Regions from separate parts of the Homo sapiens genome. Here all the other regions are linked to region 1. The links come from fine-mapping of genetic effects on plasma protein levels. Region 1 holds a variant in brackets. A gene starts in each other region. All regions are shown on their forward strands.

Region 1 (8,180 bases):
CCATTTACCATTATCCAGTTTTGATAATGAGTTTGAGCAGGTATTTTTCTCTTTGATTCAAACTGATCTTCTAGTGAAAGAGCCCAAAGGGAAGTAATCTTCTTCAATTCAAATTTCCTATGCCAGGACCACTGACAACCCTGGCAACTGCAACCACTAAAGTCATTAAGTCGGATAATGGCTATTTACGTAAAGTTCACACAATTGTTAAATTGATTCCAGATGTCTAAATAATCTGCATGCACATTAGCAGGAAGTATATCAAATATATACGTGTGTGTTCTATATACATTAACCTACCACCTGTCAGTTACATGAGAGTAGATAGCCCAGAAGTAATAAAGCCTTACCACATGTAAATTGTAGCTCTGAAGGCTACCTTCACTTACATGAGCTCAAATCCATATAGCTAACTCACCTTTACTTTTATCAAAATTGCTTTGAATTAAGGATGGGAGAAGAACCTTGGATACGGACACATTAGTTACATTAAAATCAAGTCTGTTGTGAACCTAAGGTAAAAGCTGAGAGGAAGGTTTAAAAGCAGGTATTTTCTTTCCATTATGCATTCCAAGAAAGGATTCTAGTTGTTGGGAATCTATCGTAATGCTCTTGCTGAAGGTTCCTCAAGTATAACTCGGGGTCTATGTCCCTACTGCTCTTTGGAAGAGAACAGAATTCTTTTAAAGATGTGGTCTACAGCATAAAGTATTATGTATTAGAAATATTGATTCATGTTTGTGAGTTCCCCTCCACAACTCTAATGAACAGATTATCCTAGATGTAAGATGATCTTTCAGTCCTGGTAGGGCTCTACAGTTGCCCTGAAATTACAGCTGTCTTAGGGAGAAATTTTCTTAATTGCTTTAATGTAAAATTATTTATATGTATTTATTTATTTTCTACTTAGAATATTTTAGTTTATTTTTTGCCTTAGGGAAATTTTAAAATCACAATAATGTCTAATGTTCATAAATAGAGATTTTTAGATGTGATGCACTCAAGAATTTCCTAGGCGCTGTCTTTAAGGTTAACATACCTATCTGGGGCTAGCATGGTTTAGGGTCTTGAAGGACTGCAATAGCACTAGTAAAAGGAGGAAAAGAAGATGTACTCTTTTGGACAGAGGAATTTTTTTTCTATCTTCTGTTCAAAGAATAAAAGCAAATATGAAGGCATATAAAATATTTGGAAAACACACTCTAAATTTGGTGTATTCAATAAAGTATAAAAAGGATAAAATAATAAAAGCTGTTTTGCCGAAGGTAATATGAGTATCTTGTAGCTCTTCTCTTAAAGAAGTGATTCTGAAATGTTTTAGCATTTACTTTATCAGAATAATAAACTCATCAGATGAATGCCCCTGCACCCACTTCATATATAACTGACCACTGCCTAAAGCCATGGACTTCCTAGCAGAAATCTCTCCCTGATGTTCTATCTCCTATCCCAAACCATTTCACAGTTTAGACAGGCAACTGAGGCAACTACACACAGATGTGATATATACCTCAAAAGTTTTGTAAGAAACTTTTATGGAGTTTCAGATGAGGGGAAGGCTTTGTCCTGTTGGAAGAATCTGAGAGTTCCATGCTGGAAATTTCATTTCAATTTGAACCAAGGAATGGACTACACTGGATCTCAATAGGAACAAGCTGGTTGAGCATATTCCAGACAAAGGACTAATGTGATCAAAAGATCAGAGAAAATAAATCTCTGACATGACTGGTGACCAGGTCAATTCATCAAACAGGTGGGTCAAGAAATAATGCCATTTGAAAAAAAAAAAACGTTAGAAAGTTGGTTGGGATTGCATTATAGATACCCCTGCATATCAGATTACATTTTGAAAGATTTTTGCTCTTCATAAAGGAAACTGTGGCAAATATTCAAAGAAATTTGTGATCTTATTAGAGCTGCATTAAGAAGATTAATATGATTAAATTCATAGGATGGAACAAGAAGAGAAACTAGAGGTGGGCAGAGAGAGGCAAAAGCCCAAACTAGGGTGGGGACATTGAGAATGGAAAGGAAGTGACATATTGTGAAAGAAAAAACACAATTTGTGGTTACTTAAATGTACAGAAAAACAGCATAAGCAGATTCTTAATCAACAATTTGCCAATATTTGTTTTACATATTAATAGAGCCGAAGGGTGTTTTCATAGTTTTAGGAGGTGCTTCAAGAGATCTGTGCCATATCCTTCTCTGGAATGTTCACAGTGTTAACACATCAAAGTCTATGAGAACACCTGTGTAAAGATACCAACTTAACTTTATTTCAGCAAGAAATTATCCAATTTATTCCAGTAGATATTGGCATGTCTGTAGTTGTATGTGGAACACCTATTCACAGTCTAAAAACCTAGTATTCTTTAGTACACACTTTCTGGTGCTTAGAGCAATAACAAACATTAGCTGTCAGTTCTGCCTTTTGTTGAGACAGAGCCATACTTTCTTGTCATTTTTATTCCACACATGTCATTGCTTATCAGTGTGTGCTTATTGAGGGGAGGGGTAATTTTGAGCCATAACATAATTTATGTTATTGAATCATCAAATATTTTGAACTAGAAAATGTTCTAATCTAGCATCACTCAGTTAAAACTCTATTTGAAAATATCTTGGAAACATATAACAGAATGAAAACCATAAGAACAAAGACCATAAATCCAGAAAATAAAAATGAATGAAAAGATCAAGATATAATATACAAATGACAGTTAAACTTTTATAATTCCTTAATTTATGAAAAATAATTCAAATACATTTAGTATTTTACAAATGAGCAGGTAAAATAATTATGATTTTTAAAGGCTATATTAAGATATTATTTCTTTATAAGAAATGTAGACATAATACTTATAATTTGTTTCTGCAGTTAATAATTAACATGGGTCTTTTTTTAGATGAAAAATCTTGAACATGTAAAGAAAAGTCTTGACATTATTTATTGTATTAGAATAAAGTACTAGAATTCTCTCATTCCTTATTAAAAAATTAAGCCTATGTTACCATGTTTGTCAATCTCATTTGATTTTCTATTCTTAGGTCTAAAGTTTCTAATAACAATTTAATGCATTTATCAGTAAAACACATGCTTAGAATCCAAATGTATTAAAATTTTTGCTAAAGTAAGCAAAATAGACAAATAATGAAATGTTTTTACTTTGATTTTTAGAAAAAAGGTAAAGAATTTTATTCTCTAAGAGAGCAAAACAAATTATCTTATGGTGACACTAAGACAGAAAAGAGTTTGTTTTCATTTCTGGTATTCTTTGCCAATGTTTGACAGTTGAATTTTTTTTCCAGATGAGAATTGTGCATCAATGTTCAAGTCCCAAGAGA[C/T]GTTATCAGTCTGAACAGCCCAGTGAACAAGTATTTGTGACTCTCCTTCCAAATGAAATGTTCTACAGAAAGGTGGAAGTGGTAAGAAACCGTTGAAACAGTGGTTAAGAAGGTAGGTCTTTGTGGTACTGATGGGAAATAGTCGTTAGGGGAAAGCTGCTTCACCACACAGGAAACAGAAAAACTCTTGAATGCATCTTGTCCAGCTGTGGCAGAAGAATTTACATAGATAACATTTTAAAACCAGAGAGTTTGTACTCAACTGGTGACCAAGAAACGGAGAGATGAAGGGCTGCAGGCAGAGAGTAGAAGGGAAATATTTTAAAGTTACAAGACTTACAAGCTGTGCATTTTGCAAATCACATAGCTACTTATCTTCTCAGAAAAGATGTTTAAAATAGAGACCTACACTTTATCATATTGAAAACCAAGCAATCTCAATGAAGGTTTTTAAAAAAATGTTTACCAAACCAAAAGAAACTCAAGGAAGCATTTTATAAGCTAACAGAGCTATTATTGAATGCCTTAAAATGGAAATATTTTTATTGTCTAATTATAGATATTGAAAAAGGTAGTAAGTATAAATATTCATAATAAATATTAAAATAGTAACAACAAAGTTTGCCACTTTTTCTCACTTAAGAGGAACTGATTTGGTTTTGTGATTTCACTTAATTATAATGAAAATTCTATAAGCTCAGAACTGCCATCCACATATTATAGATGAGCAAACAGACTCACAAAGATTGAGGCTTTTGACCAAGCTCCTAGGGCTTAGGCTTTGAACTCAGATGTGATGGAGTCTGAAGCTTGTGCTTGTTAAACATTATTGTGCAACTCCCATCATAATAATTTGAACAGTAACAAAAATAAGTACATTCTGTGTTTGGTTCGTTCTCTCTTTTTTTAAGTTATTTTATTCTTCTTCCAGCATGTCATATATATTATTCTCCATATAAGGAAATATAAGAATATATTCATCCTTATATAAAATGTTGGAAATGCTCTCTTGGAAAGGTTTCTTTGTGGCTTCTGGTTTTGTTCATTACTTTGCTTTTAATGATCATTATTATTATTCTTTCACAATATTGTAACATACTACCAGAGTCATTTTATTGTAAACACTTTGAAAAACATACTTCAACAATAATATTGTGGCTATAACTCAAATTCTCACCCACACGGAAAAATTGTGTGTTTTTGCTATAAAATATACGTGGTAAAAAGAAGTGTGAAGTAGAAAATGACAACAAAGTTGCAATAAATTCATTAAAAGCATAATTCATTGGTCTTTCATTCTATTCTATTCATCTAGTGAATTTATCAGATTTTAAGTGGTTTCTTAAAGCACTTAAAGTAATTTCTTCAAGCAATCTAGATACTATTACTGGGGAAAAACATCTCAAAGGCAAACACTCTTAGTATATCAATCGCTAACTTGAGACCATGTCACATAAAATAGTTGATGTGCATATTCTTTACTTCTTTTTGCCTATTTCATGGGATCGCGTTTGCTAGGTACCCAGTCTAGCAAGAAAGCCCAGTTGACATTTCACCTTCTAATCAATATCTAAGCAAACATTTTGAACACTATCTTCTTTCTTCTCCTTCTTTCCCCGGTCTAAGTACTTCAGGCAGGTGCTATCTGATTTGTACGTGTTTTAGCCATCATTATACCTTTCATTTACATGAAGCCTAGTTCATTTCACATCTGAGGCCTCTTCCAGTTCACATAACTCTCCCAATTACTTCTTGAAAATATGAAGAGTCAATCTCTCTTTCCTTTTTTAAAGTACTTAGAAAACTTCTTCATTTCCTAAATGTTTGGGTGTCATGTTCTAATTGAATTTTCATCAGGCTACAAGATAATTTAAAATGCTACTTTACTGATTTTCTATTTAGGTTAAATACTACTTTCTAATAACATATTTCTGTGTGCTTTACAAGCATGCACAATTCATGCATGATGCTTGTTTAGTCTCTCCCAGAGCTAAGGCAGGCCAAAGAATGATTTAGATATATCCTCTGGGAGACAAACTTTTATGTAGCAGGATGGCTATATTGTAAACATTTAAGACTTGTCTGAAACTCTCTACAACGTCCATATTCACATTGTCACACTGTCCTTTAATACAGCTCTTTTGGATTTTTAAATATAGTAGATTCCTAGGATTAAAGCAATTAAAATGGGAGCAACCACTTGTAGGAATCTAGTCCAATCCTCTTATTTTATAGCTAAGGAAAGTAAGACTCAGCACCATAAACGTATTGAAGATTGGCTCAAGGATCAGGTTGTTTTCTGATTTCCAATATTGTGTACTTATTCTAGTATAATTACTAGCAATTGATTTTTACTCAGTAAGACATTAGGCCCAGGGTCCCAGACCAGATAAAAAAAATAAATGATCAAAATAGCTTGAACCATTTTGGCCTAAATATTTCTGGTTTAGAGAAAAATATGGTATCAATGGATTTTATGAGGCCTGAGATGCAATATTTGAATGTCCTCATGATCACTGATTCACTCACTTTTAGATTTTGAATGTCATTTTAATGGCTTTTAAAGATGATCATATTATTTTGGTCCAGTTGGATCATTAAGGCATTTTTTTCTAAAGTAAACCACATAAAATCACTAAAATGGAATAAATCTAAGTTACAAGGAGGACTAAGACACAACCATGAATGAGTAAATCTAAATTCTATGATTAATGACTTTGAGGACCTTGTACTTGACTTCTGTAACAGCATTTAACAAATCCTTTCATCAGAATCATTTCTCATGCTGTACTTTAAATGAAGTTCTTTGTCTGGTCTAGAGCAAGCTGGAGAAGAGCTGGCAAAGAGCCTTTGGTCACATATTTCAAATTCGTTAAGCATCTTTAATCTTCCCCTTGTAGATAAAATCTCTTCAACCAAATCTCCTAACTTGGTTCAGATAGTTCATAGTTCATAGTTTCTGAATCCCCAGTGTGCTCTGCTTTCTAACCCTGCCTTGCAGTTTCTTCTATACCTTTCATTAAATCCATGATGAAATTTAAAACACACAAGCAGAATGATGTAGGCTATAAGCATTAAGGAAGTTAAGGAAGTTGATTCGCCATTTGTGTTTTCATACTGTTTCTTTGCATTCCTACATCTACATAGATAGATGTTTTATCTTTCACTATATTATTTACTTATCTCTATCTTGATACACTTTGAATAAATAACTAGCCTCCACCCACCAATTTTAGTTGATTTCTTGTTAAATTAAAATTAAAATGGCATACATGCACATTTATGTACACACACACACACTCATACATAACACATACACACAAAATCTTCTGATCGCTGATCACCTTCGATACTTACTCTATTCATACCTATACGTCACAATTTTTGTACTATACCCTTTAAGACATACATTCTTGGTCCCGATGTGTGTTCTGGAAAGACGTTTTGAATTTGCTATTTTTCACTGGCTTTATAAACAACAGGTTGAGAATAGTGACATTGGAGTAGTTAAGCTCTAATATGGTGGAAATGAGTAGTTCTTACAGACTGAATAGGGGAAAATAGCAGAGGACAAAGAGAATTTTATTCAGATTTTTAAAAAAATAAGTTCTAGAATTTAAAAAAGAAATCAAATATGTTAAAAATAGAAGAGCAAATTGGAGAAAGACTAAAAAAGAATAAGAAGGAAATGCAAATTTAAAGAAGTGCAAGTCTGTTAGGCAAAATGTAAGAATATTGGGAAAAAATAAGTTAAGCAGACTGATTATTTTGGCAGCACAAAATAAAATATCAGTATCTATCTATATATCCATATATATAAAAGAGAGGAAAGAACAAACCACAAGTCTGAAATATTATTATACTAAGAAATAATAAAGTATCATCATTGCTGCTATTTCCCTTATCTTTGGTCATATTAAATATGACCAAAATAATTTTCTACAAATTGAACCTGATATTATTGTATTACTCAAGTTAATGTATAATGCATTCTACACTTTTCTCCACTTTTACAAAATACTTATATTGCATTATTGCTCAGTCAGTTTATTGGATAATGTTGATCACTGTAGACATCTTTAAAAGTGCAGGACATGGGGAAGGGGGAACAAGATGGCTGATTAGATGCAGCCAGGAGGCACTGCTCCCACTCAGAGAGACCAAATTATCAAGTAAACCACCATAATTCGGGAATGTCTTCAGAAAGAAAATGCCGAACTCAATGAAGAGGTGATGCTGAAGCTGAGACTGAACAGGGAGGAAGCTGGGAACCCCATGCAGGGTACCTGAATGCTAGAGCTAGCTCCTGAACCTGAATGGTTCCTGGGAAAGAAGTGAATGAAGGATGACTCACACTTGTCATGAACCTCTGGGATCCTTGCTACAGGGGACCCCACATCCCCCATGGACTTATGAATTGTCTGGAGGATCTTCCTAGGGAGCAGGCAGAGACAAGCCTTCAGACAGCATGGAGCCTGGGAGCGTTTGTTCACTGGGCAGCTCCAGCAGAGAGCAGCCATAGATGGCCACGCTCCAGGGATCTCTATGCACCTCCGGGAGGCACTGGCCTTAGCTGACCTCTGAGCTAAGAGAGAGCAGGGCTGGTTTCCCTGTGGGACTAGAGCACGTGTATTCCATAAGCCCTCCTGCCCACTGGCCTCTCCTGCCCACTGGCCCCCATAGGGTCCATGCCTAACTGTTCTGCAGAAAAAAGTTCACAGTGAGGCCTCTGCAGTCCAGTCTGAGTGCATTGTTCCACAAGAATACTTTCCTGGTAACCCAAGAGCACATCAGATCCCTCAGCACAACTAGAACCCAACTCTGAGCCATGG
Region 2 (8,180 bases), not on the chromosome of region 1:
ATCTCTGCCCGGAGGCAAGGCGCGCCTCCCTGGAGCCAGGTCTGGGGCAGCAGGCGAATGAAGCGGGCCACCTGGGGCTCCGGCAGGAGGTTCAGCACTGGAGTTTCTGGGTCTGAATTGGCAGGAAATACCTGGGGGCAGCAAGTTCTCTGTTGTGGCTGCTCAAACCCCAGAAGCCTGGCCCAGGACCCAGGGAAGGAGCTCAGGCCTCCAAGCTTACTGTCTCCCCACCCTAGTGGGCTCAGCTAGAGACTTGCACTGTGCATCAAACACAGACCCCGGCCCACAGCCCCTGCCAATGGGCAGCCCTAGGCAGCCTTGCTCTCTGGATTGGACACAGTTCATTAGACCAGTTTGGCCACATGACTCGGGGGAAGCCAATCCTAGAGCTGGCCAGGACTCCACATTGTAGCCTGCTGTAAAAAGAGGTCCATGAGATGCGGAAGTCAGAACCACGAGAAGGCAAGAAGTGATGTGGACCAGAGGCCCCGGGCCAGAAGGGGCACGCCAGGAGGAAGCTGTACCGTGAAGCAGCACCCACCCTGTGGTGGCATTATCTGGGGAGGATGTGGGCATGTCCCAAAGCAGCTGGCTCCCAATGGTGCCTGCCGTGTGCCACCCTCTTGACAACAAGCCACACCCCCCTGGGAAGCCTAAGCTGGCGTCTATTCCTTGTCCTCAGAGGAGCCTCAGCCTAGCCTGGACTGGGTGCCCAACTCCCAGCATGGAGGCCCCAGCCACAGTGGGACCACTCACTGCGTCCATCCCACTGCTGTGGTTCCTACTTCCCCACCAGGTCCGACTGTCATTGCTGAACTGGACCTTGTATGATGTGACCCAGTCATACCTGGCAGGAGAGGTGGAGAGAGATCATCGGTGCCCCCAGGACTCCCACCCCAGTCCTTCTGTGACCTCCTGACCTAGGGTTAGTCTGCCTCACCTCCAGACAGAGTTCCTGCCCTGTGTGATAACACCCGAGAAGCGGGTGGGGTGCCCAGCGTCCACCTGAAACCATGGATCGGCGTCCTGCTCCTCAGCACACCAGGCTCCATCATATAGATCGCCGTCCTCCAGGCCTGACTGCAGACACAGGACATGGTGGTCAGGCCCAGTTGGACAGAGTGGGGCAGGCCAGGACAGAGAGGAGGCAGGAGAGAAGCTCCCAGGGGCTGCCTTCCCTACCCTGAGACCATGGCTCCGAGCCAGGATTACTGACCTGAATGTTGAGCCGTCCTCGGTGTGGTCCAAGACCAAAGGACTGGCTGCTGGATGCCTCAAGCCGGCTATCTGAAACTCGCAGGGACTCCAGACCCAAAGGAGGACAGCCTGGGGCGGGGATAGAACAGTGAGACAGGACCAGAGGGAGGGTAGCCAGGGCAGGTGGGAAGCTGAGCCTAAGGTTGCTCCTGCGCTAGGCAAGCAAGGGGCGTGCCGGTGCCCATGAGGCCAAGAGCTGTGCTGGTAAAGTGCCCCAGGGGCTGCAAGTCTGGGCTGGGCCCCTGGAGAGGAAGTACCTGTTTCTTGTTTCTCAGCGGGGTCGAGGGTCCCTGCTGGAGTGGGGGTCACAAGGGGCCCGGCAGTCACCAGTGGGGTGGGGCGAGTTAGAGTTAGCTTCTTCCGCTTCTTCATAATGACCTTTTTCTTCTTGATGACTCGAATCCGGACATGCTGTTCTGAGGTCCCTTGGGGTCCGAGAGGCACAGCATGGGGGAAAGGAAGAATGGTGAAACCCCGGATGGAAAGGTCTGCCAGCCCAAGAAGACATGTGAGCCCACAGCAGGCCACACCACCAGGATCTAACAGCCTTCACAGGACATCAAAGGCCTGCAATCTGACCCCAACCTGCCTCTCCAGTCACTTCCTTGGCTCCTCCTTCTCCTCCCTGATGTAACTACATGCTTGGCCAGCCTCCCCTGTGAACCTCTAATCCAATGGAGAGCTGCACCCAGCCTCTAGAAACTGTTCGGTTGCTCCAAAGAGCTGAGTCTGGCACTTTACCTCCGGGCCTCTGCACTAGCTATCCCCTCCCCTGTAATGCTACCCCTCGCCTCTGATTTTTTCACCTAATTCCCATTCTTCCTTTGCATCTCAGCCCAGATGCCTTTCCAAGGAGGCTTTCTTAGCTCCAGACTCAGCATCATGCCCCAAAACCCCTGTGCCGCTTCCATTGTTGTGTCTGCTCTCTGGGCTCAGATGGCCTGTCCTGGAATCCATGTCTGCCTGGGTGTCGAGGCTTTCAGGGCTGGGCCTGCCCGCCGGCCCTTCAGCACAAGGCTCTGCCCAGGCAGGTGCTGGGGGTACCCATCGAAGCTCCACAGCTGCCTCCAGAACAGGCTGCCCATTTCCGCATCTGGTGCCCCTGTGCCTTTGCCCGCCGCTTCCTTCTTGGCAGCCCTCTCTCTCTCTCTCTCTCCAGACTCCCCTGACTCGGGGACATCACCCTTCAAGACCCTCCTCCACTTGCCTCCTCTAGAAGCCCCTGAGTGCCCTCCGCTTGCGCTCCTCCTCTCCTATTCCACATCTGGAAAGCTGGGAGGTCGGGCTGCCTTCCTCTCCCGCTCTGCCCCATCCTCCCGGCAGCCTCAGCGAGGGGCTCTCCCTTCTTTCCTTTTGTTCTTTCTCTCCAGCCCTCGCCTTCAAACTCTCTCCTACGCAGTCTTGCTCTGCACCTTGAGAGCTTCTGCCCCTCTGTCTCCCCTCCTGCCAGTTCTGGCCTGTTTTGTCTTTGGTGAAAAGGGAAGGTTTGGGGCTTGGAAGAGGCAGCATCCCACTGGCGCCTGTCCTGGGACTGCTGACTAGGTCTGGCAGGGAACTGGGGCTGCCGAGTCAGCAGCCATTGCTCCCAGCAGGGAGTTGAGGGAGTGTGAGTGTGTATATGTGTGTGTGCACTGTGAGTGTGAGTGTGCGCGCGCGTGCACTGTGTGTGCGCGCACGCGCGTGTGAGTGTGCGTGTGTGTGCATGCGTGTGAATGCGCGCGCGTGTGAGTGCAAGTGTGCGCGTGTGTGAATGTGTGTGAGTGCGCGCGCGTGTGTGCGCGTGAGTGCGAGTGTGCGTGCGGGGTGAGTGTGCATGACTGTGAGTGTGCGTGGGTGTGCGTGTGCCCGCGTGTTAGGGAGGGATCGCCCCACGGGGCAGGAGAGCCGGGCAGTCGGCTTGCGGGGGAGCGGACCGTCGGTCGGGGAACTCACCGTTAGCTGTCTCCGCCGGCGGCTGTGCCGGGCTGCTATGCAGGGCCGGGGTCGAGCCTGGGACCTTGGTGGTCCCGGGCTGCGCGAGGCCCAGCACCGAGTTCCTGGGCGCCCCCAGAGCCGGGCCGACGGCCGGCGCGAAGGCGGCCAGGGCGAGCAGGAGCCCCCACATGGCGGGGATTGAGTGCCAGGGGCGCGCGGGCTACGGCGGGTGGCGGGTCGGTCTCTTCCTGCCGAGTGCGCCGAGCCCCCCGCCCCTTCCTGCCCCCCGCCCCTCCGCAGCCTCCTGCCCGCCCACAGCCCGCTGCCCGCCTCGGACCTCGGAGAGGAGGAGAGGGCCGGGAGGAGCGAGCGGGGCTGACCTCCAAGGGGCCGCCCCAAGTCTCAGGACCGCCGACTCTGCCCTTCCTCTCCGCCGTCTGGGGCCAACCCGCCTCGTTGGCGCGCTGCGCCTTTATAGTCTGCAAAGCCACACTGAAGAGACCAGAGATCACCTGGTGGCCATCAAGTCGACCAACAGGAGGCAAAGCCCCTTATCTGAGCAATTCAGAATGACACTTCCCTATTGTCTAAAGCCACATCTGGTACCAAGCTTCCGTCCCAAGAATTTATAAGTAACTAGAATTTCTGTACGTTTCCGGAATGAGTGCACGTTAAGACCCATTGTGCAAACTTTGCTGACATCAAGGCACCAAAATATCGACAAATGTAACCATTTACCATGACCTAAGTGACTAATGTGGTCCAAATTACCCTGCAGTTCCCCGCAGGGAGCTCAGTCCTCTCTTGCTGAAGCGCCTACTGCGCTCTGCTGCCTCGTCCTTTCCGTCTAATAAAACTTTCCTTTTCAGACCTACACGGTTGTTGATAAGTTCTTTTACCACCCGGGAGCCAACCACTTCCCGGTTCCGGAGCTCTGACACCTCGCCTGGCATCTTGGTGGCCCATACGGGGACTTCACTGGGATTTCCCTCTTCCTTTTTCTCTCTGCTTCCTTCCACGGTCTGGTTCTTTACTCTTTGGGGAACTGCCGGTCCCGGTGGAGGCAGCTCTTCTGTGGGATCCTGAAGCCCTAGAGAAGGGATACCTGGCTGTCCTTGCCCTTAGGGGTGAGGGACTGGCCAGGGCTCTTTTCTGTTTTCGGACTGCCAGTGAACCAGCTTGAGTTCTCGTTGGCAACTGACAGTTTCTGGCCAAGCGCCATCCCCCGGTATTACCCCAAGGCCAAGACAAAAGAGCTATTGCCTGTCAGAGTGGCAGGGCACTTTCATTTTAACACTCCATAAGCCTTGTCCTGGAAGCGGTGGATCTCAATTCTACACAGGGATGCCTCAGGGATCTTGTAGTTCCTTGTCTAAACCCAACTTCGGTTCAATTAATTCAGTTCCATCCAACTCGCCCTTGGATTGCCTCCTTAAAAATGGTCCCATTGGTCTCATTTTGACCCACAAACTCTTAAAAATAAGCATATAAGGCTGAGCACAATGGCTTATGCCTGTAACCCCAGCACTTTGGGAGGCCAAGGCAGGCAGATCACCTGAGGTCCGGAGTTAAAGACCGGGAGTCTACTAAAAATGCAAAACTTGGCCGGGCACAGTGACTCACACCTGTAATCCTAGCACTTTGGGAGGCCGAGGCGAGTGGATCACCTGAGGTCAGGAGTTCGAGATCAGCCTGGCCAACATGGCGAAACCCTGTCTCTACTAAAAATACAAAAAAAAAAAAAAAATCAGCCAGGGGGCTAATTATATGTGGCGGGCACATATAATCCCAGCTACTAGGGAGGCTGAGGCAGGAGAATCACTTGTACCCCGGGGGCGGAGGTTGCAGTGGGCCAAGATGGCGCCACAGCACTCCAGCCTGGGCGACACAGCAAGACTCTGTCTCAAAAAATACAAATAAAAAATAAATAAGAGTTTAAAAAGCATATCCTTTTTTCTAATATTGCTTGGGTTCAATACAAGCTCCCTAATCAATCAATTTGGCCAATTAATGAAACTTGGGATTGCAATGCTACTTTACAACTTAACTGATTTTTTGCCGGAACCTTGGAAAGGATTCAGAAGTCCCATATGTTCAGGTCTTTTTTGCTTTATCCCCAAATCCAAACCCAAAATTACATACAAATTGTCATGTATGCTTCCAAGGAACGTCCTCCCTTCCCGGTTCTGATGTCTTAGATGATCCTTCCTTTTGCCTATTACATCCTCCTCAACCTGCTCACTCTTCACCTACACCCTCTCCATCTGCTCCATTCCCTAGTCAATCTCCCACCCACATACCCAAATACTTTCTCCCCTTCACATACTCTCAGGGGAGTCACATATGCTACTAGTACAGAGTCCTCAGAAAAATCCCCAAAATATTTTGCCTCTCCCTAAGGTGGCTAATGAAGATTTGGGAACAAGCCAAGTTCATGTCCCTTTTCTGATCATGTCTGATCTTTTGCAAATTCAATCCAAGTTGGGTTCATTTAGTCAGGATCCCTCTAAGTTCATTCAAGAATTTCAGACTTTAACTGTTGCCTTTGATTTAACCTGGCAAGATGTATTTGTGGTATTAACTACCTGCTGTTCCCACACACAAAAAATCACACGTGTGATCTTCAGCATGGGCAGATGAAGCTCATGCTCCCAGTCCTAATAACAGAGCTGGGCAGAAGCTGTCCCCAACATAGAACCTATTGGCAATACCAGGCCACCAATTCTGGCCCAAACAGAGGTAAGGGCAGACAGGATCATATGGTAACTTCTCTGTTGGAGGGAATGAAAAATATATAATAAAACCTGTTAATTTTTCTAAATTATAAGAAATAATAGCTGGGCGCGGTGGCTCACACCTGTAATCCCAGCACTTTGGGAGGCTGAGGCGAGCGGGTCACCTGAGGTTTGAGACCAGCCTAGCCAACACGGAGAAACCCCATCTCTACTAAAAATACAAAATGAGCTGGGCATGGTGGTGCATGCCTGTAATCCCAGTTACTCCAGAGGCTGAGGCAGGAGAATCGTTTGAACCTTGGAGGCGGAAGTTGTGGTGAGCTGAGATTGCGCCACTGCACTCCAGCCTGGGCAACAAGAGCGAAATTCCATCTCAAATAAAATAAAATAAAAAGAAATAATAATTTTGTATGTATGAAACTATCTGAAAGCCCTGCCCTTTTCCAAGCTAGACTGGTGGAGGCCATGCATAAATACACAAATTGAGACCCCAGGGGCCAGGTGTGGTTGCTCACACCTGTAATCCTAGTACTTTGGGAGACCAAGGCGAGGCGGGCGGATCACCTGAGGTCAGGAGTTGGAGACCAGCCTGGCCAACATGGTGAGAACCTGTCTCTACTAAAAACACAAAAATCTGTGGGCATGGAGGTGCATGCCGGTAATTCCTGCCTTTTAATGCTTATATCTTCCAGCTTACAATGATTCCACCTACAGATGACTATGCAATCCCAATACCAGCCTGCAACAGCAACTTCTATTTTCATGGGGCCTCTTGATGGAATCTGGTCTTCCCTCCATGAACAAGTTTATCATGACCCTTCATTCCCTTCATGACAGAAAGCAAGAAAGGAATCCTTTCAATGCCCCTTTTCAGCAGGAAGTAGCCAGATAGACTGGACACCCCTCTTCACTGTGCCATTTTCCCTTTCTTGGGATCCTAACAGACAAGTAGACATGAGCATGGAGAAATACAAAGGGTCAAAGATTTGCCCAAAATATTTATCAGGGGGAAAATGAGGAGAGCAAGGATCACCTGGTGGCCATCAAGCAGACCATCAGGAGGCAAAGCACCTTATCTGAAGAACTCAGAATGGTACTTTCCTATTATCTAAAGCCACATCTGGTACCAGGCTTCTTTCCCTAGAATTTCTATACATCTCCGGAATGCACGCATGTTGGAACCCATTGTGCAACCTTTGCTGTCATCAAGGTGCCAAAATGTCTACAAATGTAATCATTTACTATGACCTACAAAACTAATGTGGTCAAAATTACCCTTCAGTTCCCTGCAAGTGAGCTCAGGCCTCTCTTGCCGAAGCATCCCGCTGCGCTCTGCTGTGGAGTTCTTTCCATCTAATAAAACTTTTCAAACCTATACTGTTGTTGATAAATTCTTTTACCACCCGGGAGCCAACCATTCGTGGCTGCGGCTCCCGGGGCTCTGACACCCAGCCTGGCACACAACATTTCACTTAGCCCCTCGAGGCCCTTAGCCTGCAGCAGACATCTACTTTGTACCATGCACTATGCCAGGAGTTTTACACGTGGCCGCTCAATCAAACTTCATTTTACAAACTGATAAACTGAGGCTCAGAGCGGCTAATGACTTGGGCGAGGTAGCAAAGCTGAGAACTTTGGGAAGGAAACTACAACCGGAGAGGAAAAGCTATCCAGAGCCAGAGGCCCCCTGGCAGGGCGGGTGGGACAGAAGGGGGAAAAGAGTGAAGGGAAAATGAGGCGGCGGGGGGCTAGGGGGCGACCCGGAGCCTGGGGAGAGGGCTGGTCCCGGAATCCTCCAGAAAGACAACCCAAGGGGCCCAAGAAGAGGCGGCACGGCGGCGCTTCCCACCACCACCATCACCAAGCCCGGCCCTGCCCCTCCTCTCCTTTCCCTTCCCTCCCCTACTCCTTCGCTCACTCACCCGGCTGCCACGTCCCGTCCCGGGGTTACATAACCCGGAGAGAGAAGCCTGAGCGATAGCCTGCGGGCTGGGGCTGCGGTGGAGGAGCCAAGGGTTGATGCACTGCCTGACCTGCCCTCCGGCTCCTCGCCCCCAGCCCGTATTCTCCTCGGGGAGCCGGCAGCCCTGGGTCTGCCCAGATCCGGAGATGCCCTTCCCGCCCTCCCTCCAAGACCCCCTTTGGATCCTGCATTCCTGGTCATCTCTCCAGAAGGAAGGAAACGCGTCCAGCGGTGTGCCTTTGGCCGGCGCTTGGCCTTTGCAAAGGGCTCTCCAGGGAGATGCTCCCATCCCCACGAGGAGCGATGCCCAG
Region 3 (8,147 bases), not on the chromosome of region 1:
CGCGGTGGCTCACACCTGTAATCCCAGCACTTGGGAGACTGAGGCAGGCGGATCATGAGGTCAGGAGTTTGAGACGAGCCTGACCAACATGGTGAAACCCCGTCTCTACTAAAAAATACAAAAATTAGCCAGGCATGGTGGTGCGCACCTGTAATCCCAGCTACTCAGGAGACTAAAGCAGGAGAAATCACTTGAACCTGGGGGGACAGAGGTTGCAGTGAGCTGAGATCACGCCACTACACTCCAGCCTGGGTGACAGAGTGAGACTCTGTCTCAAAAAATAAATAAATAAAAATAAAAATAAAAGGAAGGAGACTGATAAGTGGTGTGCTCAAGGCCAAACTCCTAATTAGAGGTGGGACCAGAGCTAGGTCCCAGGTCCCCTAACTTGCAGCCCAGGGCCCTCTCACTGTACTGGGGTGTATTCATCTCATTTCGATATGGGAACACAGATGTGTCAGAATGAGGAAGTTACTTTCCAATGCACTGTGCAGTTATGTTAGCCATGCTATTTCTCCATCCTAGCTGAAGTCCCACCACCATAGACCCTGACACTCCACTGTCCCCATGTCCTAGATCACCACGTAGTGTGCTTATTCTGCTTCATAGTCTCATACTCAGCAGTCCCAGCCCACCACATACTCCTTCTCTCCCTTTACAGTTTCCCTGGTCACTCACTTCTTGTAGTCCCTTTTCCGTCCATCCTGTCCCCTTTTCAGTTTCTGTTTTAACTTCTCCTTACATACCCAGTTCTACAAACAGCATTATGAGCTCAGCCACCCTCCAGTTCCTGTTAAAAACCACTAGAAATATAATCCAAGGGCTGGGCGAGGTGGCTCATGCCTGTAATCCCAGCACTTTGGGAGGCCGAGGCGGGCAGATCACCTGAGGTCAGGAGTTCGAGACCAGCCCGACCAATATGGTGAAACCCTGTCTCTACTAAAAATACAAAAGTTAGCCGGGCTGTGGTGGCGCACGCCTGTAATCCCAGCTACTCAGGAGGTTGAGGCAGGAGAATCGCTTGAACCCTGGAGGCAGAGGTTGCAGTGAGCCGAGATCGTGCCACTGCACTCTAGCCTGGGTGACGGAGGGAGGCCCTGTCTCGAGAGAGAGCAAGACAGATGCGAACCATATTTGCAATTTTATATTTTCTAGTAGCCACATTTTTAAAAGTAAAGAGAAACTCATGGAATTATTTTTAGTAATATATTTTACCCAATATATCCAACATGTTACTTCAATATAAAATCAATATAAAATTATTAATGATATTTTAAATTCTTTCTTCATATTAAATTTTTGAAATTGTGTGTATATTTTACACTCAGCATATCTCAATACAAACTAGCTGCATTTCAAGTGCTCAATAGCCACATGAGGCTGGTGGCTACCAGATGAAACAGCACAGATCTAGACTCTAATGAAAACGGATTTAAAAAAAAATAACTTTTGTTTATCTGTATTCTTATTCTTCAACAGACACAAATTGCATGCATTTCTGTATTTTTACAACTTGCTATTTTAAATATCTTTGGCATATCTTCACATTCATCCTCTAATGCAAGTTAGTTTTCTAATTTTTTTAATTTTTTTTTTTTTTTTTTTTTTTTTGAGACGGAGTCTCGCTCTGTCGCCCAGGCTGGAGTGCAGTGGCACCATCTCGCCTCACTGCAACCTCCGCCTCCCGGGTTCAAGCGATTCTCCTGCCTCAGCCTCCCAAGTAGCTGGGACTACAGGCGCGTGCCACCATGCCCGGCTAATTTTTTGTATTTTTAGTAGAGACGGGGTTTCACCGTGTTAGCCAGGATGGTCTCGATCTCCTGACCTCGTGATCCGCCCGCCTCGGCCTCCCAAAGTGCTGGGATTACAGGCGTGAGCCACCGCGCCCGGCTGCAAGTTAGTTTTCTAAATGGCACATGTCACATCAGCATCTGTCTTCACTTCGATATATATATTCATATTTAGCTCCTATCTGTTCCACTGCCTCAAGACATTCTCCCTGTTCCCTGCCTCCTGCCACCTTCTCCCTCTGCACATCACTGGCTGTGAAGGTTCAGATGCCCAGAAGAAACGTTTTCCACATCTTCACCACCTCTTCACACTAACCCATGCACAATTTCTAGCTCTGCTTTAGTAGATCTAAGGTCACTGACTCATGACTCAGAAAAGTCAAATGCAAATCATAGGAAAAGCCTGTCTTCACTGCTTCAAAGTTATGTTTACAATAGGCTTGTTATTTACTTTTACTTAAAATTAGAAACAGTCGAAAAAAATGAAATGCATGGCCTACTTTGGTTCCTTTTCAAAATAAACTGGCCTAATGGTTCTCCACAAACACAAGCAACTCAATTTTTAATCAAAAAATGTACTTCTTGCCTCAAAGACTTTACTAAAATAATGTTTTTGGTTCTTAACTATAGAAACAGTTTCACCACTGGAAAATGTGAACATGAGGTAGATACAGCTTAAGAAGTTAAAAGTCTTGAATTAGGAAATTAAGGTGTTGTCATTGACTTTAAACACCTATAGACTTTGTAATTCATATTACAGTTTGGCTTCCCATTGCTCGAAGTGTTTGCCTTCCTAATAATGACAGACTTGCTGTTCTCCCCCAGGCTCTAAAAGGTAGCATGTGGAACCCGGGGGAGTTATGAGACCTGGATTTGGGTTCTCACTGCCAGTTGACAGCCAGATATATGATCTTGGCGTCCATTCGCCCCGCTGGCCTCAGCCTTCCTGCTGTAAAAAGGGGGTTGACAGCAGGCTCCTTAAGACTGCCTCCACCTCTGCCCCCCGACCTTAGCTCATCCTCCTCTATTCCATTATCCCTGAAGCATTTGCCTCCTCATGTATCTCCTTCCCAAAAGACAAGATGGCTGGCAGCACGGAAGTGAAAAGGGAAAGAAAGGCTGTTTAAAAAAAAAAAATTCTAAAATGAGTCACCTTTCAAGAATTTCCCATTTCCTCATGCCTGGGTGCTTCCTCGTGTCGCTAAATCAGTTCTTCCAATGAAACTTGATCTAAGAACCTGGTATTTGTTATGTGCACTGCTCTTGGATGATGTTTACAATGTGCACACATCTCTTTTAAGAGCTTGTAGGTATCAAACGACCTCCAGGTTGTGCATCAAAAAGACATCAGCAGCCACAGAGTCAACTTTAGTTGAGCCTGGAGAAAATCATACAAAACCGTAGAGTTTTAACTAGGTTTTGTATCATCTTTTGATAAGTTAGGAAAAATAATTACAGCTCTCCAAACTTCCCACTTAACAACTCCCAGGACCCTGCAGCACCCTAAAATCTAGCCAGCTCCAAGAATCACTCTCTACTCCATACCCGGATGAGCCTTGACTCACACTAATTCCCTCCCTGAGGCTTAAGTCAGGGGGCAGCTGATGGTTGTGGTCTGTGCTGCTTCCGCCTGGCCTATTTTTCATGCTGCCATTTTGAATTAGCATAGGTTTCCTCCGCAACTGATGCATCTTCTAACCAGGCTGGGAACACAACACGCGCACACGCGCACACACACACGCACGCACCCACCCCACCCGGCTGCCGGACGCAAGCGTAAGTCAAGGACTTGCATGCTAGAATCAGACAGAAAATCCAGAAAAGCCACGTTATTTAACAGAACCCTACAAGGTCAGCTTTGAGTCAAAGCAGGTAACAGTTTCCTTCGATGTTTTCATGGACATTTTTATTCCCAAATCCGAGTTCTCGCCAATTCTCTAAAGTTCAAGCGCCCCTCCTGCTTTGCAGACCACATTTCTCTCGGCCCTCGCGAGTGAGGTCGCCAAATACTCGACGCCTCAAGAGCGAGCCGAGGAGGCAGAGGCCGACCAAGCCGGCCTCTCGGCAGCCCCGCCCGGCGCCCCGCGGAGAACGCCCGGGTGCGGCTCGAGGGAAGTTGTGTCAAGTCCCACGCGCGGCCCGCGGAGAACCCAGGGGCGGCCCGCGCGCGTCGGCCTAGCGGGGAGGGCTGCTCCGGGACACGGTGCGGCGGCCGCGGGCGAGTTGGACGCGCTGGCAGAGCCGGGCCGAAGGCGGCGGGCGTCTCCGGGCAGCCATGTTCGCGGCGCCCGCCCGCGCAGCAGGTACGGCACCTCGGGGAAGGTGCCCGGCTCGCCCCAGACCCCAGGGTGGCGAGGCCAGGGGCCCACAGGCACATCCCAGTGGGCAGCAGGTTGGCTGCCAGGAAAAGGAAACCCAGGAAGAGCAGCGCGGGGAACCCGGCTGCGGTGCGGGAGCCCGGGGCCGGCATCCCTCCACTGCACCCCCGCAGTCCCCGAGCCGAGTCACCCCGGCTTCAGGCCGAGGCCACCTCTCCTCTGACCGCCCCCAGGCTCCCAGCCCGCCCGGGCCAGCACCGGGAATCGGCCTGGGGTAACGCTACCCGCGGGTTCGGAGGGACAGCGGGAGGAGATGAAACGCAGGAGGTGGCGATGGCGGGTGGGGTGAAACCGCCGGGAAAGCAGCGCTGCAAACGCCCTGCGCTCCCAGACGCGGCTCACCTGGGGCGGCGGGCTCCGGGCTCCGCTCTCCGCTCTGCGGTGCTGAGGCTGCGGCCGCCGAGGGTGCGGGTGCTGCCGGGTCCGGATTACTGCGGCGACCTCGGGGGCTGCAGCTGCAGTGGCGGAGGCGGCCGCCGGGCGCTTCCCCCTACCCAGACTCCCGGCGCTGGGGCCCGCCGCCCCCCGCAGCAGCTGGCCCGACTCACGTGACCGCGGGCCCACCCTCCGCCTCCCCCACCCCGGCCCCCGGGGCCCCGCCGCACCCCGCGCGTCTGGCTGCACGGGCCGCGGCGCTGCTCACCGTCGAGTAGGGAGGGGGCCTGGGAGCTGGAGGAGCGGCCGAGAGGGCGTATCTCGCCGCAGAAAGTGGCCCCCTCTTTGCTAGATTTTTATTTCTTGGTTGTGGCTCTCAAAAGGGAAAACCCGGGCTTCAAGGAGCCAGGCCCAGCATCCTTTTGGCGCCTCTTCCCGACGTTTGGTTGCTACGTCCGGGCCTCGGCGCCCACACAAGATTTCCCCGGAGAGAAATGTGTCCTGTACCTTGTTGACTCGCACGTCCAAGTCGAGTCCCTGGTTTTAAAAGTGCCGTCCTGTACCATGTTGGTAAGCCAGACCCTGTCCCAGGTACTTGGACATTGTGGCCTAGAGAGGTTAAGTAACTTGCCCAAGGTCACACAGCACGTAACTAAGCCAAGATTCCATATCTGGGTTAATAAAGTTATGTACAGGGACTTGTGTGTTGTGTGTCTGTGTGTGTGTGTGTGTGTGTGTGTTGATGCCAGCGTCAACTCCATCTTTTATAAGTAAATAAGAAAAGACTATCTCAAAAGATATGAAGACGTAATTCAGAGGAAAATAAATGCAATTCTATCCTGGCACACGAAAAGATATTCAGGCTCACTTAACTGCAAATCAAATATGTGGGGTAGCATCTTCCACCAGCCAGATTAACAAAAATCAAAACATTTTGAGTCTTGCTTTGTCGCCCAGTCTGGAATGCAGTGGCAGGATCTCGGCTCACTGCAAACTCCGCCTCCTGCCTCCCGCCTCCCGCCTCCCGCCTCCCGGGTTCAAGCGATTCTCGTGCCTCAGCCTCCCAAGTGGCTGAGACTACAGACCCACGCCACCAGCCTCGCTAATTTTTTTTGATTTTTAGTAGAGATGGGGTTTCACCATGTTGCCCAGGCCGGTCTCAAACTCCTGAGCTTAGGCAATCCGCCTGCCTCTACTATCCAGCTTCCTTTAAAAAGGAGAATGATCTTTATTTGCTAATACAAAACTATTTCCAACCTATACTAACTAAAGAAAAATAAAAAGCTAGGTGCAGAACGTTGTGTGTGTTATTTGTGGGAAGAAAATATATATGTATGTCTGTACTTATTTTTGTAAATGCACAGAGTATCTTTGGAAGAGTACGTAAGAACCTGTAATAGATGCCACCAGGGAGCAGAACTGGGAGACTGGGTGCTGGGGAGAGAAGGAGACTTTTTTCCATGCCCTTTGAATGTTGAGCCTGTGCTTACAGTCTGACACATGAGTAAACGGATAGTGGGGAAGGGCTGAGGAAGTTGGTGTAGGTACTGCAGAATAGAGCATTGGTTCGTAGACTCTTGGAGCACAAAGGTACTTTACTGTTCTTTTAGTCTAGCCAAGAAAACTGTAGCCAATGAGTCTAAATAATCAATATTAGAAATTTCTAGCGGGCTTATTCCTGGGTTCCAGCCCAGATCTATGGAATTCAGAGTCTCTGGGGCTGGAGCCAGGGAACCCGCATTTTTCAAGCTCTTTAGTTGTTTCTCTTGCATGTTAAAGTCTGAAAGTCCGTGAGGTGTGGGTAGGGAGAGCATTAGGAAAAATAGGTAATGCATGCTGGGCTTAATACCTAAGTGATGGGTTGATAGGTGCAGCAAACCACCGTGGTACACGTTTACTTATATAACAAATCTGCACATCCTGCATATATACCCCAGAACTTAAAATAAATATTAAACTTTTTTTAAAAGTCTCAGAGTCGCTGTTTTATTTTTTGTTTGTTTTGAGATGGGATCTCGCTCTGTCACCCAGCCTCGAGGGAAGTGGCTCACTGCAGCCTCTACCTCCTAGGCTCAAGTGATCCTCCTACCTCAGCCTCCTGAGTAGATAGGACTACAAGCATGTGCCACCATGCCTAGCTACTTTTTAAAATATTTTTGTAGAAATGGAGTCTCACTATGTTGCCCAGGCTGGTTTCAAGCTCCTGGACTCAAATGATCCTCCTGCCTTAGCCATCTGAAGTGTTAAGATTACAGACGTGAGCCACCGTGCCCAGCCAGAGTCACTGTTTTAAATGTCTAGTTTAAGACTACACCACTACTAGAAAGGCAAATGCAATCCTGTGCCTTCCTATAGCCAGTATATGTCATTTGTTGTGTAAAGGATGGCACTTGCACCCTACGCTGCTCCCCTGGAGGCAGCCATATGCTCAGTACACGGATAGGGGATACTGCCAACCTGCCTGCCTGGCCTGAGATCTTTGAAGCCTGTTGGTTTGTCCCTACACAGCCACAGGAGCTTTGAGGCCAGGAGCCCAGGAACACATGGAGATTGAAAGACACCTGCTTTCCCCAGGGTCTGCATGGAGAAGCTTATTATATGGCACTATGAACGCTTATTAAACAGCAGCAATGACCGGGCATGGTGGCTCATGCCTGTAATCCCAGCACTTTGGGAGACCAAGGCGGGTGGATCACGAGGTCAGAAGATCAAGACCATCCTGGCCAACATGGTGAAACCCCGTCTCTACTGAAAATACAAAAATTAGCTGTGTGTGGTGGTGCGTGCCTATAATCCCAGCTACTTGGGAGGCTGAGGCAGGAGAATAGCTTGAACCAGGGAGTCAGAGGTTGCAGTGAGCCAAGATCGTGCCATTGCACTCCAGCCTGGGTGAGAGAGTGAGACTCCGTCTTAAAAAACAAAAACCAGCAGCAATACACTTATTTTGTCTCTGCTTTGTATCCAAAAGACAGTCCCTACTATTATTTGAGCTGCATAAATAGAGATAAGAGAACAGAACTGTCCAACAAATGTGGAGAACACCAAGAAATATCAGTAAGGGCTTTAATCATTGGCCTCTATCAATTATGTGAGGTTTAACTTTGAGTAAATTATAAGATTTCCATGAGCTAGCTTGCAAGGAAAAAAAATGTCTTAAATGACTTGCAACTGTTACACGGTCATTTATATTCCATCTAGTCATATTCAGAGACTTAAGAGCTAAAAAATACAAGTATAACAGATTTCCTTTTTTCTCTTCCGCCCTGAGAAGGACATGATCCCTACAGAGGTTACTCTCTGCAGCTGAGGCAGAAGGAGATTATAGCTAGAGGCTGTCTGCTAAACATGTCTGGAGGGTACACTCAGTGATGACCACAGATACTAATAGTGTTTTCAGTTTGGAACAATTATGAATAAAGCTGCTAATAATATTTATCTACAAGTTTTATGTAAGTGTAGGTTTTCATTTCTCTTGGGTAAACATTAGATTGGTGCAAAAGTAATTGCAGTTTTTGCCATTACTGTTTTAAAAATGGCAAAAACTGCAATCACTTTTGCACCAACCAACCTAATACTTAAGAGTGAAGTGGGTGAGTCATACGGC

Which allele goes with the higher level. Alleles are on the strand shown, and positions count from the first base shown. The strength of an association depends on the size of the effect and on how common the allele is.
For the plasma level of the protein whose gene starts at base 3,416 in region 2, allele T in region 1 goes with a lower level than allele C (weak association).
For the plasma level of the protein whose gene starts at base 4,670 in region 3, T is the high allele of the variant in region 1 and C is the other (moderate association).

What was found. A credible set is the group of variants that fine-mapping cannot tell apart. PIP is the posterior inclusion probability: the model's chance that the variant is causal. Protein levels are from antibody-based Olink assays in UK Biobank. Linkage for the fine-mapping came from a reference panel and not from the study's own genotypes, which makes the PIPs less certain.
Region 2: it holds the start of CPXM1, and the variant in region 1 is the best candidate, but not a certain one, in a credible set for the plasma level of the CPXM1 protein (UK Biobank, PIP 0.76).
Region 3: it holds the start of SCRN1, and the variant in region 1 is the best candidate, but not a certain one, in a credible set for the plasma level of the SCRN1 protein (UK Biobank, PIP 0.65).

Annotation. Positions count from the first base shown.
Region 1 is chr1:199,038,244-199,046,423 of GRCh38, forward strand. It overlaps LINC01221 (long intergenic non-protein coding RNA 1221), which reads left to right. Exons shown (of 3, transcript NR_126351.1): 2 at 3,313-3,429. Among named protein-coding and RNA genes, the nearest start is that of LINC01222, 23 kb to the left of the region's middle. The variant C/T (reference allele first, on the strand shown) is at 3,349.
Region 2 is chr20:2,797,212-2,805,391 of GRCh38, forward strand. It overlaps CPXM1 (carboxypeptidase X, M14 family member 1), which reads right to left and starts at 3,416. Exons shown (of 14, transcript NM_019609.5): 1 at 3,190-3,416; 2 at 1,515-1,682; 3 at 1,217-1,326; 4 at 941-1,080; 5 at 757-847; 6 at 1-131. The coding sequence starts at 3,361. RefSeq lists enhancers at 998-1,985, 1,986-2,973, 2,974-3,959.
Region 3 is chr7:29,985,132-29,993,278 of GRCh38, forward strand. SCRN1 (secernin 1) reads right to left here and starts at 4,670. Exons shown (of 8, transcript NM_014766.5): 1 at 4,511-4,670. It overlaps FKBP14-AS1 (FKBP14 antisense RNA 1), which reads left to right and starts at 3,525. Exons shown (of 3, transcript NR_187577.1): 1 at 3,525-3,662. RefSeq lists silencers at 3,897-4,016, 4,107-4,376, 4,387-4,436, 4,457-4,796.